Homo sapiens: one gene and its partner. The protein of the gene in region 1 purifies or fractionates together with the protein of each later gene. This does not show direct contact. Each region holds a gene or a part of one and is shown on either strand. Other genes may lie near its edges.

Region 1 (5,330 bases):
GATATATATATATCCTATATATATCATATATGATATATCACATATCATATATATTGTATATATATCACATATCATATATATCGTATATATATCACATATCATACACACACACACACACACACACACACACACGGCGGTATTAAGTATTAACTTACATGATCACAATGTCCCACAATAGGCTGTCTGCAAGGTGGGGAGCAAGGACAACCAGTTTAAGTCCCAAAACTGAAGAACCTGGAGTCTGATGTTTGAGGGCAGGAAGCATCCAGCATGGGAGAAAGATGTAGGCTGGGAGGCTAGGCCAGTCTCTCCTCTTCACATTTTTCTGCCTGCTTTATATTCGCTGGCAGCTGATTAGATTGTGCCCACCAGATTAAGCATGGATCTGCTTTCCCCAGCCCACTGACTCAAATGTTAATCTCTTTTGGGAACACCCTCACAGACATACCCAGGAACCCAGGATTAATACTTTGTGTCCTTCAATTCAATCCAGTTGACACTCAGTATTAACCATTACACAAGCCTTCCCAATTAGTAAATATTTGAAGACTAACCCTGTTAACAACTACTTGTTTGATTCTTTCTCTTCCCACTTAAAAGGTAATATGGTAATAGGACTGGGTGCTGTGGCTCATGCACTATAATCCCAGCACTTTGGGAGGCCAAAGCAGAAGGATCACCTGAGGCCAGGAATTCAATACCAGCTGGGCAACATAGCAAGACCCCCCTCTCTACAAAACCTTTTTAAAAATATTATCTGGGCATGGTGGCACACGTTTGTAGTTCCAGCTACTGGGGAGGCTGAGGTGGGAGGATGGCTTGAGCCCAGGAGTTTGAGGTTACAGGGAGTTTGATCATACCACTGCACTCCAGCCTGGGCAACAGAGTGAGACCCCATCTCTTAAAAAAAAATACTGCAATATAGCTTACTTTAAGTAGCACAAACCCAACTGGTATGGAATATATCTAATCTAAAAATTATGTGATTATATTGTAAAGTCAATGACATTTATGTGGGGTTTAGAGTACTGAAATGTTTTTTAAGAAAAATTAAGGCTTCAGGTTAACAACTTTTTTTTTTTGTCTTCAATAATTTGCATCTTTGTGGGTGGGTTTGGGGATCTCAGTGACCTGAAGGCATTAGACTGCCGCTTTGCTTTTCAGATATGTACACGGTGCAGGGGGTGTGTTTATAGCTGATGAAGTTCAAGTGGGCTTTGGCAGAGTTGGGAAACATTTCTGGAGCTTCCAGATGTATGGTGAAGACTTTGTTCCAGACATCGTCACAATGGGAAAACCGATGGGCAACGGCCACCCGGTGGCATGTGTGGTAACAACCAAAGAAATTGCAGAAGCCTTCAGCAGCTCTGGGATGGAATATTTTAATACGGTACATTTTGGTCTCCAACTTTAATGCTAAGAAGGAAAAATAATGCATGTTCTTATATTTTTTGCCAATGTAGTAAAGAATAAAGCTCAGTATTGCCGGCTAACCACCCAGAACTCTGGCCAAAGTTTTTTCTTATTTTAATAAAACATCTTAAATACTTACATATATATATAAAATTATACTTTAAGTTCTGGGATACATGAGTAGAATGTGCAGGTTTGTTACATAGGTATACATGTGCCATGGTGGTTTGCTGCACCTATCAACCCGTCATCTAGATTTTAAGTCCCACATGCATTAGATATGGCCAAACTTTTATCTAACCAGATTTTATTCTGTCTGACAAAATGCTCCTTGTATTTCTGCTTGTGTATCTTTACCTGTCCTAAAACAGGCTTATTAATTTTTCCAATGATAGATGGTTGCCCTGCTAAATTCTACAGGTTATGATATTTTCATTTCTTTGTTTCATATCATACTTAAATTTCCAAAACACTTTTAAAGTATTTTTATGACTCAGTACTATAAATGTTATACAGCTGTCATAAGAGATACTAAATTTTTATCTTTGGGATATTATATTTTTTTGACTTATCCCCATAAGCTTTAAGCTTGGAAAAATTATTGTAGTTTGTTCAGTATATATAATACGACTTGTTACAGCTAAAAGTAAGATTCAAATCTGAGGACATAAATTGCTTGGGGAAAATGTCATTGCTTAGCTACTTTTACTCAGCTCTTCAAGGGCAGAAACCCCTATTTCCCTCACTGGGCAACACTATGAAATCCTGAACTCCCAACATAATGTCTGCTTTTGTTTGGATGAGCAAATAAAATCACTGGTAGTCCTTCATACCAGTTATGCAGCTTGGATAATATAATTTAGAATGAATTTTCACTCAGTCCTGAATATATAGAATCATGCTCTATTCTAAATATGAGAAACTAATATTATAAGAGAACATTTTATTTAAATTATATCTTCACTTATGTATGTATGAGCCAAATTTCTCATGGATGAGGGAATACCACTCATTCAACTGGTATATTTTCTCATTTGTCTTTTTTTTTTTTACAGTATGGAGGAAATCCAGTATCTTGTGCTGTTGGTTTGGCTGTCCTGGATATAATTGAAAATGAAGACCTTCAAGGAAATGCCAAGAGAGTAGGGAATTATCTCACTGAGTTACTGAAAAAACAGAAGGCTAAACACACTTTGATAGGAGATATTAGGTATGTTCATTATGAAGTTGTCATGTAGTTACTCATTTTTTTCAAAATAATAATAGTTTATAGGCTGGGCAACATGGTGAGACCCCGTCTCTATTAAAACTACAAAAAATTAGCCAGGTGTGGTGGCACACACAAATAGTCCCAGCTACTCGGGAGGCTGAGGCATGAGAATCACTTGAGCCTGGGAGGCAGAGGTTGCAGTGAGCCGAGATTGTGCCACTGCATTCCAGCCTGGGTGATAGGGTGAAATCCCGTCTCTAACAATAATAATAATAGTTTATATTTTATCTTGTAAGTTTATAATAAAGTACATAAAACTAAATCTGGAAAACACCAAAAAAGAGAGATAGCAAAAATTATTCTTATTCCAGAATCCAGATATCACCACTGTTAACATTTGGGTGGGGCCGGATGTGGTGGTTCACATCTGTAATCCCAGCACCTTGGGAGGCAGAGGCAGGAATATTGCTTGAGCCCAGGAGTTTGAGACCAGCCTGGGCAACATAACAAGAAACCTTGTTTCTATAAAATAAATAAATAAACCAACAACAATAAAAAAACATTTGGGTATATGTCTTTCCTGGCTTTTATACTTTTTTAATAAAGTTAGGATAATGTCAGCACCCAAAAGATGAAAAGAAGGAACTTAATGTAGCTCTAAATAATTTATTGAAAATTATTTAAAATGCTATTCTGAAAAGCTGGATATTTTTCATATATATGTATGAAATACTGACATATATATATATAATATATATATATATTATATATATATATATAATATATATATATATATTATATATATATATAATATATATATATATTATATATATATATATAATATATATATATATATTATATATATATATATATATATATAATGTTAACATTTATCATCATTAACATCCTGAGAAACTAAATAGCATGAAAGGGTTGTTTTTAAGCCATTTTCTTTTATAATTGAGAAAAGAAAACTGGATGACAAAAACTAATTTATTTCCAAAAGTAGAAACAACTGTGAACATAGATTGGTATCTTGATTTAGTTAGAATTAAACTTGGAAATTAAATGGAAGTTTGGTGATAGTGTTAACTTTTTGTGACAGTGAAGAGTTGGACAGATTGTGGGTCAAGTTTTTCTTCACCTCTCGCAGGGGCATTGGCCTTTTTATTGGAATTGATTTAGTGAAGGACCATCTGAAAAGGACCCCTGCCACAGCTGAAGCTCAGCACATCATCTACAAGTAATTCACCCCCACACCCACCTGTTTGGTATCTTGGCTGCAGGATGCCTACCCACTTGAAAGCTTGCTTGACTTCCTCCCATCCCTCTGAAAAAGGAAAGTTTAAATACATCCTATTTATAATGTGGGCTTCTTAAATGCAGAATACTTAAACTGCTCTATGTTCACATAATTCTTCAGTAATCGTAGTTATCCTTTGCATACACTCACATGTATTTCCTACACAAATTAGGATGAAAGAAAAACGAGTGCTTCTCAGTGCCGATGGACCTCATAGAAATGTACTTAAAATAAAACCACCTATGTGCTTCACTGAAGAAGATGCAAAGTTCATGGTGGACCAACTTGATAGGATTCTAACAGGTGGGTCCATGGATCTTTAAGATGTCTTCTTGTTCCCTCTCCCAAACCCACCCCTCAAACCCTGGTCTAGTCATAATGAGCATATGCATCTTGTTATTCATGATGGAAGTGAGGCAGGGCAGAAATAAATGTGTAACTTTCCATTTAGGACTAGAAAAAGATAGCTGAAAAGTAACTACATGGACTCTTAAATTGAAATTTTCAGTTTGTATTCATATAACTCCAAATATAAGTTTTTGCTGAAAGAACATAGTTTTGTCATTTATTTTTACTTTAGACTAGCATATTTAAAAGTGCATGTCTGCATTGTGCCATGGACCACAAATACTACAGTATATAGTATTTCAGCATTGTGTGATTAATACATGAAACATTTCTAATAAAAAAATTATATAGGCTACAGTGTGACAGTTCTTTGCTATATGCTGAATTGCTTAACTTTGCGTGGTTTTTTTTTTTTTTTTTTTTGAGATGGAGTCTCACTCTGTCATCCAGGCTGGAGTGTAGTGCTGTGATCTCGGCTCACTGCAGCCTCCGCCTCCCGGGTTTCAGCGATTCTCCTGCCTCAGCCTCCCAGGTATCCGGGATTACAGGCACCCGCCACCATGCCGGGCTAATTTCTGCATTTTTAGTAGAGATGGGGTTTCACTATGTTGGCCAGGCTGGTATCGAATTCCTGACCTCAGGTGATCCACCCACCTCGACCTCCCAAAGTGCTAGGATTATAGACGTAAGTCACCGCGTCCAGCCTAACTTTGCATTTTTAACTTTTATTTTTAAATTTTTATTTATTTATTTATTTTCTGAGACAGAGTCTTGCTGTGTCACCCAGGCTGGAGTGCAGTGGTGGGATCTCGGCTCACTGCAACCTCCGCCTCCCAGATTCAAGCAATTCTCCTGTCTCAGCCACCTGAGTAGCTGGGACTACAGGAGCATGCCACCACACCCAGCTAATGTTTGTATTTTTAGTGGAGACAGGTTTCACCATGTGGGCCAGGCTGGTCTCGAACTCCCGACCTCGTGATCTGCTCACCTCAGCCTCCCAAAGTGCTGAGATTACATGCATGAGCCACTGCACCCGGCCTTAATTTTTATTTTTTT
Region 2 (4,415 bases), on another chromosome or scaffold:
CATGACTGCTCATTAACCCCTTGCTGGTGCAAAGCAGTTTGACTGGAAGCCACTCGGGTTCCATTGTCTGAGCGCCTCTTCCTAGCCCCTGAATGAGAGGTGTGATGTTTCAGATCCAGGCACCTGAGTTCAAATTGTAGCACACACCACAGTCCAGGCCCAGAATGTCAGTAACGATGACAAACTGCACATCTTGCCTTTCTCTATTTCTAAATCTGAAATGAGATGGGGCTAGGGAGGGAACTTTCCAGTTCTTTCCCCCTGCCTGTTTGAGTGGCATCTGCTGGGGTGAGGGCTTTTCTCCTGAGGGTGGCAGGAGAGCCAGGCAGAATGCTAATTAGTGCTCTGGGATGTTTGCATGGAGCATGATGCCCACATGCCCTGAGCATGGTCCCTTCCCTCTGGCCTTTCTCTGTAGAGAAGGGGCCTGGCCTCTGTCCAGTTGCCAAGCAGCACCCCTGACACACGCTGTTGTGTATGTCTGATGGGGGAGGCTGCGTCCTCTCCTTTCCCCTTGGTAGACTTCTCATGGACCTGTGGACAAGGTGATCGCAACTGGTAAGAGGACAGATTGAGACTTGCATGGGGTCCTGCGTCCAGTGATGCCACTATGCTAAGGCCACCAGGCAGTCCTTAGCCTGGGCCTTGCAAGGGTATATCTGAACCCCAATCTTGCTTGGACCAGAGGGTGTGGATGGGGGTTTGCTAGAGTTTTACTTTCTTAGGCTTCTGAGAGAAGCCTGTGATACTAGGAAAGAGGTCATATATTTATAGTTGAACCTGTGCCTTGTTTGCTATAATCAGGTAAGCAAGCAGATGAATTTATTCAAGAAATGTGTCCATATGTGCAGGCTAGATGCTAGCTAATGTCAAATACCTCATGTGTGGCCGGGCGTGGCCGGGCGCAGTGGCTCACGCCTGTAACCCCAGCACTTTGGGAGGCCGAGGTGGGTGGATCACCTGAGGTCAGGAGTTCAAGACCAGCCTGGCCAACATGATGAAACCCCATGTCTACTAAAAGTACAAAAATTAGCCGGGCATGGTGGTGGGTGCCTGTAATCCCAGCTACTCAGGAGGCTGAAGCAGGAGAATCTCTTGAACCCAGGATGCGGAGGTTGCAGTGGGCTGAGATTGCGCCACTGCACTCCAGGCTGGGTGACAAGAGTGAGACTCTGTCTCAAAAATAAAAAATAAAAAATAAAAAACAAACAAACAAAAAACACCTCATATATGACAGCTACTCTATGCTATCTCTGAACCACATAGCAACCCTGAACATTCTACGGAGGGGGAAACTAGGACTCAGTGATTAAGTAAAGGGCCCAATATCCTGGGCCCTATAAGTAGCAGAGCTGGGACTCAAACCCATGCTGTCAGATTCCAGATCCCATGCACCTCACTGCTGTGCCATGCTGCCTCTCTTCTGTGGACAGAGATAAAGTAGCCAGGCATGGTAGTGCATGCCTGTAATCCTAGCTACTCGGGATGCTGAGGTGGGAGAATCACCTGAGCCCAGGAGGTGGAGGTTGCAGAGAGCCGAGACTGGGCCACTGCACTCCAGCCTGGGCAACAGAGTGAGACCCTGTCTTAAAAAAAAAAAAAAAAAAAAAAGTAGCCGTTGAACTACAGCAGGCCCTGCCCTGCCGGGCCAGAATGCACAGCCCTGGAAGTTTTACATGTGTGCATGTGTGTGTGCTCCATTTGCTGGACAAAGCAACTTTGGAGGAGTCTATGACTGAATGGAAGAAGCGGCGGAGGTTCTCTATCTCCTCTTTATTTAAGGAGGCAGTTCTCCCTGTCATTCATCCCTAGTTAAAAAAGTTAAATGTGCCACTGTACCCCTGAATCTGTGGGCCACAGATATGTGTCAGGGACAGTCAGAGCAGGGCAGGCAGGCTCTGGCTGGGTAGGTGAAGGCCCAGCCTTGCCTGCCAGCCAGCCTGTGAAACCCCATCAGCTGCCTGCATTCCTCCAGCACAGCCTGGTTTCCATGGCACTGACCGTCTGGTGGGGACCTTTGTTCACACCAAGTAAAGAGCCTCTCTCTTGTATTGATTGCAAAGCAGAATGTTGCTCTCTTTCTCTTTCCTCCAGGGGACATGGTGAGAGGCAGGGAGAGGCCGCTGTGTCAGTACTGCGGTCCTTGCGGCCTCTGAAATGGGTTGTCGTGGGCTGTTCTGGGAGCACACTGCTTTTGTGCCATCTTTCTTTTGGGTCCTGGGCTAGGGATAAACTCTCAAGCAGCCTGGGCTCCCTTTCTGTCTTGGTTGCACATAAAGTTATCTAAATTTGGCTGGGTGCAGTGGCTTATGCCTGTAATCCCAGCTACTCAGGAGGCTGAGGCAGGAGAATCGCTTGAACCCAGGAGGCGGAGGCTGCAGTGAGCCGAGATCGTGCCACTGCACTCCAGCCTGGGTGACAGAGCAAGATTCCAACTCAAAAAAAAAAAAAGAAAAAAAAGTTATCTAAATTTTTGGAAACTATTTAGCGTTTCAGCCTCTACCAGTTCTCATATGAGTAATGAGTTCTGCAAGTTGACCGTCCACTCTAGACGGTAGCTCTGCCTCTTGTTTATCCTGAAACTACCATCTCAAGTCTCCTGATAGGCTCCCTGGTTCTAATGTGCTGTGGTCTGGTGAACACGGTCGTTAACCATGTCCTCCTTTCAGGACTCTTGTTGGTCACATCTCCTCCCAGCCTTGGTGTTTCGAGGCCAGGTTTTCTCAGCCTAGGCAATATTGACATTTGGGGCCAGGTAAGGTTTTGGTGTGGGGTGTGTGTGTGTTGGGATTGACTTGTGCACTGTAGAATGTTTAGCTGTATTCCTGGCCTGGCCCTGCTAGATGCTAGCAACTCTCTCCATCAGAATGGGGGCAATAAAAAGGTCTCCAGGAATTTCCAGATGTCCCCTGGGGGGCAAAGCCACTTGTAGTGGTGAACCACTGTTCCAGCGGCCCTTCCTTCCTGGCACATTTCATCCCTTAACTTTCTCCAGGTCCTTCCTGTGTGTCTGTGGGGCAAAGAGCTGTTCTGGTTGGGATAAATCTGGTTCCCATAATCACTTGGGCTTGGTAATAGTAGCTAATACTGACAGGCACTCAGTCTCTTAAGATCTCACGTGGACTTTGAATTAAGGTATAAATTCAGGTTCCATTTTATAAATGATAATGAAACACAGGGAAGTTTTTCAATATTTGGCCCACAGAATACCTACTTTTAGGATCATCCGGGGAATAAATATCTATTTCTATGTGCCATAATTCATATCTACCCACTAGGAGTTCAGGCACTTGGGAATCTGCATTTTATACTTTGCAAGTTCTCTTTTGGAATGGTTTTACATTAATGCAGTTTTCAAATCAAAAGATGGTGAAAGTCTCTCTTACTGCTCTGCTACCTGTCCGTTTCCCTTACCCACTCTCTCCCCCAACGCACACGCATACAGGTAACTAGTTGCTTGTGTGTCCTTCCAGATTTTTTTGTAGCTGTATGGTGGAATTTAAATTTAACAAGCTCCCAATTTCAAATATGAGAACCAGTGCTCTCAACAGTGCTGCTTGCCTGCTCAACACAAAATGTTTGGAGGCGGAAAGGTTTTCTCACGGTGGCTGCAAAATAGAGGAATTCTGGAGGCCTGATGTATGGATTCTCAGTGTATTGGGTGTCCTCTTCTCTCTCACCATTCCACCCCTGGGCCTGATTAAAGGAAGAAGAATAAATTCAGATACAAATAGCTCCGTTTGGGGAGACTGGATTCTCCTTCCAGAAGGATGTAGGCAGCTTAGTTATTCTGTAAAAATTCTGCTACAATTAAGGACATGAAAGATGCTCAGTGGCAGAATGAATGGGACAAATGGCTTAGTTTCAGGCAGTCTGAGTTCTTTCTAGAACTGCTTCAGTTTTAACAGGAGCAGTTCCTTGGAGCTGTGTGGCAGCGAAACTTGTGGCTAGTTGACGGGGTTTGGCTGAGGTGACGGGATACATGAAGGCTTCAGAAGAAAGTATAAATTCCATAACAGTAGGATTTAATTTCTGCAATGATGTCTTGGGGTCAACTGCATATGGAAATGGGTTTCTTATTTTCTTCCATGCTTTCCATGTCTTGATTCTCCCAGCTGGTCTCAGAAGTCATCTTCATTCTGCACACTCAGACTTAACTTGTAATCAGGACTCACTGACCAGGTGCACCTGACACCACAGCTGTTTTGGGGCCTCCTTCTGCTGCAGGTTTGGATCCTGCCGGGCCCATGTTTGAAGGGGCCGACATCCACAAGAGGCTCTCTCCGGACGATGCAGATTTTGTGGATGTCCTCCACACCTACACGCGTTCCTTCGGCTTGAGCATTGGTATTCAGATGCCTGTGGGCCACATTGACATCTACCCCAATGGGGGTGACTTCCAGCCAGGCTGTGGA

The links. The genes of interacting proteins can lie anywhere in the genome.
Region 2: the proteins of ETNPPL (region 1) and LIPG purify together in Homo sapiens (affinity purification with mass spectrometry; one large-scale study listed by BioGRID and IntAct). This does not show direct contact.

Annotation. Positions count from the first base shown.
Region 1 is NC_000004.12:108,745,298-108,750,627, reverse strand, and holds part of ETNPPL (ethanolamine-phosphate phospho-lyase), read left to right. Parts: intron 1-1,164; coding exon 1,165-1,390; intron 1,391-2,468; coding exon 2,469-2,623; intron 2,624-3,776; coding exon 3,777-3,866; intron 3,867-4,098; coding exon 4,099-4,229; intron 4,230-5,330. UniProt on the Homo sapiens protein: Catalyzes the pyridoxal-phosphate-dependent breakdown of phosphoethanolamine, converting it to ammonia, inorganic phosphate and acetaldehyde.
Region 2 is NC_000018.10:49,571,142-49,575,556, forward strand, and holds part of LIPG (endothelial lipase isoform 1 precursor), read left to right. Parts: intron 1-4,115; coding exon of another isoform or gene 4,116-4,192; exon of another isoform or gene 4,193-4,221; intron 4,222-4,227; coding exon 4,228-4,415. UniProt on the Homo sapiens protein: Exerts both phospholipase and triglyceride lipase activities. More active as a phospholipase than a triglyceride lipase.